2 separate regions of the Homo sapiens genome follow, and region 2 is linked to region 1. A link means that fine-mapping ties the variant in region 1 to the expression of a gene that starts in the linked region. Tissue or cell type: whole blood. Region 1 holds a variant in brackets; the other region holds the start of a gene. All regions are shown on one strand. Distances are between the middles of the regions.

The links. PIP is the estimated chance that this variant, and not a neighbour inherited with it, causes the effect.
Region 2: it holds the start of SLC39A13, and the variant in region 1 is fine-mapped to the expression of SLC39A13 in whole blood (TOPMed, PIP above 0.99).

The regions. Positions count from the first base shown.
Region 1 is chr11:47,897,911-47,900,592 of GRCh38, reverse strand. No RefSeq gene overlaps it. Among named protein-coding and RNA genes, the nearest start is that of NUP160, 51 kb to the right of the region's middle. The variant C/A (reference allele first, on the strand shown) is at 1,152.
Region 2 is chr11:47,406,965-47,409,646 of GRCh38, reverse strand. It overlaps SLC39A13 (solute carrier family 39 member 13), which reads right to left and starts at 1,057. Exons shown (of 10, transcript NM_001128225.3): 1 at 985-1,057. It overlaps SLC39A13-AS1 (SLC39A13 antisense RNA 1), which reads left to right and starts at 365. Exons shown (of 4, transcript NR_182308.1): 1 at 365-695. RefSeq lists enhancers at 1-664, 953-1,775 and a silencer at 755-1,544.

The DNA of each region.
Region 1 (2,682 bases):
ATTTACAGCCCAACCTACCTTCCATGATAAGCTCCTTTGTACAGTGAATAACCTGCTCGACTGTATGTGGTAACCCTGAGTGCAGGAAACAAAGGTGAATAACACCTTTCACACTTGAGGAGCTCAACTGGTCAAGGAAATAAATATGGAAATGTATATGATATCATATGACATAATAAAGGTATGTTTGAACATTATAGGAGTTAGCATTGAGACGGAAATGTCATCAAAAATAAGGAAGCACGAAAACATGAATACCCTTGAGCAGAAAGGAGCAAGTGGCCTTATTTCTCTACCCCAGTGGTTCCCAAGTCTACAGGGTCATCAGAATCATTCGGTGGGCACTTAAAAAATTACAGACCCCTGCCCTCTACGCCTATCCCAGAGCAGGTCTGAGGCAGAGACTAGGAGTCTGCATCATAATAAGTTCCTCTAGGTGATTTCAGTGATTTGCTGGGTTAGGAACCACAGGTGTGAACCAAGCCCCACCCAGCCTCTACTCACCCAGTACCCACTTTCTCTTGGTGAGATAATAGTGTTCAGTACTTTCTCCCTAGAATAAAAAGGAAATGAAAGTTCTGTGGTCTCTAAAGCGGACTGCCCAGGTGAAATTTCAGTTCTGCTTTAGAAAGACAAAAGGCACCTGAGACCTGTGATGGCCGACACATCCAAGGGGCAGGTTACATGGGGTCACATGAGCCTCTTGCACCCACTGATGTGGCTGCTGCCAGGATGCAAAGAGAGGAAGGTGCAGCCTGGCCAGGACAGTGGCCTGTGAGCAGGAATTCTGATAACAAACCCTCAGAGGAAACCAGTCTGGTGTCTGAGAACCTGACTATGATGCTCATGCCCACCAAAAGACTCTTCCTGACTTCCTTGATTATGACTTTGGGATGTGTATTTGGGGAATTCAGTGCTGCCTTATTCAGTTGAAGGATGAAGTATGTTCCTAGGGCACCAGTGTGGCTTGCAGCAGAGTTTTCCTATCTATGAACATGGAATATCTATCTACCTATCATACTTCTTTGATTTCTTTCATCAGAGTTCTGTAGCTTTTCTCATGTAGATCTTTCTTTTTTTTTTTTTTTTTTGAGATGGAATCTCGCTCTGTGGCCCACACCACACTGGAGTGCAGTGGCTTGATCTCGGCT[C/A]ACTGTAACCTCTGCCTCCCAGGTTCAAGTGATTCTCCTGCCTCGGCCTCCAAGTAGCTGGGATTACAGGTGCCTACCACCACACCCAGCTAGTTTTTGTATTTTTTAGTAGAGATGGGGTTCCTCCATGTTGGCCAGGCTGGTCTCGAACTCCTGACCTCAGGTGATCCGCCCACCTTAGCCTCCCAAAGTGCTGGGATTACAGGCATGAAGCACTGCACCCAGATCTCATGTAGATCTTGTACATGCTTTGCTAGATTTACACCTAAGGATTTCATTTTTGAGATGCTAATGTAAATGGTAATGTGTTTTTAATTTCAAATTCCATTTGTGGGCTAGGTGACAATGTGATTCTCCTGCCTTAGCTTTCCAAAGGGCTGGGATTACAGGCAGTGGTTCATGAGCCCAGGAGTCTGAGACCAGTCTGAGCAACACGGTGAGACCCCATCTCTACAAAAAATTAAAACATTAGCCATGCATGGTGGCATGTGCCTACAGACCCAGCTACTCAGGAGGCTGAGGCAGGAGGATGACTTGAGCCAGGAGGTAAAGGTTGCAGTGGTCCACATTCATGCCACTGCACTCCAGCTGAGTGACAGATCAAGTCCCTGTCTCAAAAAAAAAAAAAAATTTACTTGTTCATTGCTGCTACTTAGGAAAGTGATTGGCTTTTGTTTTTAACCTTGCATCCTGAAACATTGCTGTAATCACTTATTAGTTCCAGGAGGTTTTTGCTGTTGTTGCTTCTTTTGGATTTTCTACATAGACAATCATGTCATCTGCAAACAAAGGCATTTATATTTCTTCCTTCCCAATCTGCATAGCTTTTATCTCCTCTTCTTGTCTTGTTGCATTAGCTAGGACTTCTGGTACAATGTTGAAAAACAGTGGTGAGAGCGGACAGCCTTGCCTCATTCCTGATCTTAGCAGGAAAGTTTCAAGTTTTTCACCACTCAGTATGATGCTGGTTGGGGGGTTTTTAGAGATGTTCTTTTATTTACTTATTTATTTATTTATTTATTTATTTATTTATTTATTTATTTAATTTTTGAGATTGAGTCTCACTCTGTTGCCCAGGCTGGAGTGCAGTGGCACATTTGGTTCACTACAAACTCCGCCTCCAGGGTTCAAGCAAGTCTCCTACCTCAGCCTCCCGAGTAGCTGGAATTGCCCCCCACCATGCCTGGCTAATTTTTGTATTTTTAGTAGAGACAGGGTTTCACCATGTTAGCCAGGCTGATCTCAAACTCCTGACCTCAAGTAATCCTACGCCTCAACCTCCCAAAGTGCTAGGATTACAGGCATGAGCCACTGTGCCCGGCCTATAGATGTTCTTATTTAAGTTAAGGAAGTTTCCCTTTATTCCTAGCTTGCTGAGAGTTTTTTCTTTTTTTTTTTTTTTTTTTTTTGAGACGGAGTCTTGCTCTGTTGCCCAGGCTGGAGTGCAGTGGCACAATTACTGATGTGATAGATTATATTAATTAATATTCAAATGTTGAACTAGTCTTGCATACCTGGGATAAATCCCACT
Region 2 (2,682 bases), 490 kb after region 1:
ATGAGCCAGGGCAAGACCATCCACGCTTCTTCCTAGGACATGAGACCAATGTCCCCAGGGCACTGAGGGCAACAGGAGATGGGGCTGATGAGGAAGGAGCCTTTAGCCAGGGGATGCCTCTCTCTTGTATAGCGCAGGCTTTAGAGCCCCCACGGTGAATTCTATGCTGCACTTTGAGCTGTCTAACTCTGGGCAAATCTCTGAAGCCCCCCCTCTGAGCCTCAGTGCCCTCATCTGCAGGACAGGGATCAATATCACCTGCCTCAGCTGTGAGGACGAGATAAGCCTGAAAGTGCAGGTGGATGTACCCGGCATGAGGAGGCGCAGAGGCCCTGCCTGTGCCAGGGAAGGCCTGGGGCTCCCTGCAGCAGGAATGTGCCCAGCCGGCCGATCACAGGATGTGGACGTGAGTCAACCAAGCGAGAAGTTCCATCTGGAAACTCGGGCATGAGGTTTAAATGTGGTCTGCTCTGCCTCAGGCTGGCTGTGACCTTGAGCTGGTGATGTCCCTGCCTCAGTTTCCTCACCTTCTGATGGAGATGGGAGGGGAAGAAAGCAGCTGCCTCTGGGTGGTGGCAGAGATGCCCATGTCTAGGACCTCCAGGCCTTAACTAATCAGGGGCACTGATGAAGCCAGCGGGGCTCCACTGGGGACCACAGGCAAGACTGGGCCAGGACGAGGCGGTCACGCAGAGGTGAGGGGACCACAGGCTAGCGGGAGGGAATACACGGAGAGTCCAAGGGGAGAGGAAAGTAGAGAGTGAGAGAGCTAGAGAGAGGCGGGTGGGACGCGGAGAGGACAGCGAGGGAGGGATGGGGCGTGGGGCGCGGAGCGATGGGGGAGAGGAGGCCGAAGCGGGCGAGCCTGACTCCCGGGTCCTGGGAGCCGGCCCAGGTCTGATGAGGACCAGTCGGACGGGGCGAGGGATCGGCCGGGTCCATCACGCCCGGGGCGCGGGCCCCGAGGGTCCTGCTGGCACTCACCGTGCGGCGGCGGCGGCGGCGATCCGGGCGGCCCCAGCCATCCAGCTGCGGTGCCGCGCCCCGCCCAGGCTCTGCCCCGCCCGGCCGCCCGGCCGCCCGGCCCCCGGCCCGGGGCCGCCCCCGGCGCGCGGCCACGTCACAAGGGGCCTGTCCGGAACCCGAGGCGCCGCGTGCCGCGGGGTCGGGGGGAGTGGCGGCGGGAGGGCGCTTCCGCCTCGCGGCGGTGGGGGACCCGGGTAGAGGGCGCACTTCCGTTTGGGCAGGGCTGCGGGCCGGAGGGGAGGGTCGGTCGGAAGTGAGAGAGCCACACGCACCGCGCTCAGCCAGGCTGGGCAGGGACGGAAGCGGCGGCTCTGCGGGGACCGCGATCGACCAGGCTGCGGGGCTTGCGGATCTGGCCGCCGCTTCCCGTCCAGGGCCGCAGTCTGCCCGTGGCCGCACGGGGGCGCGCCCGGCCGCCAGACCACGCCGCCCAGGTCGGGCTGGGAGGACTACTGTGCGCTCCTGCTCTGAGTCAGCCCGGCCTGGCTCCTCCATGAGCAAGGGAAAGGGGAAGTGCCTGCCGCAGGGAGGGGCCTGGCCCCGGGAACCTCAGAAGAGGGAATTTTATTCTTACTCATCGAATTATTTTTATGCTTTGGTTTTTCACTGGGAACCTCAGGCCACTGTCTCCAGGGCTTGTAACCCTTTGGGGTCCAATGCATGGTGGCTGGACCCTGCTGATGGGAACTCCAAACCTGGGAGGCGAGGGCTCTGTGCTTCCCTCACCTGGAGGAAGCTAGACCTGACCTCTTTGGTTAGACTAAGGCAGCAAACACTGGATAGCAGTTCTTATAACCGCAATTTACTGACCACCTACTATGTGCTATTCACTTTACTCGCACTATCTCACTGAATCCTCATATTATCCCATTGTGGTGGGTACTGTTAGCCCAGGGTCACACAGTGGCACAGATGGCAGAGCCAGGATTCAAACCTGGGTGTCCTGAAGCCAGAGTATGTGATACCACTTCTCACGTCTAGGTCCTGAACAGCAGTGGGAGTCTGGCTTGGCGTTTCGAGTTTGTATTCTTCTCTGGAAATCAGCCAGTACAGGAGAAGATTCAGGAAGGGGCATGTGGGTACTCACTTGGGCAGAGATAGCGACTGAGTACAGGTCTCTTAAGTCTCTGACCCTCATCAGCCTCCCATGGCAGCTCCAACCATTTACTCTGTCACTTTCCCCTCTGCTGGGGCTCTTGAGAGCACACTCAGCTCTCAGGGCTGCCTCTGGTGCCTGTCCCACTTCATGTTGCACTGTTGGCCTTCCTTAGACCGCCAACTTCTCCCTGGTGGCCCAGCTTGTCTTCTGAAGCTTTCTGTCCATCTCACCCCACCGGGCCCATACAACTGCCAGGACGTTCTGTTCCCTCCCTGAGTTCCAAAATGGAATCCCTGGGTTAGTTTCTTGGCAAAGAAAAGCTACTCAGGGATCCTGCCCTAGGACTTCTAAAATGCCCCCCTCCCTGTATGCAAAAGCGCTCCATCTTATGCAAAGCACTTCACAATATGCAAATGATTTCACAATAACACAGTCAGCATTCCTGCCTCTGGAGGCTGAGCGCTCCTGGCCACCCAACAAGGGGATGGGCAAGACCCAGCCAGAAACGTTACTTGGTGCCAATGCACTACCCTTTCCTCCCACCTGGCCTGGAATTC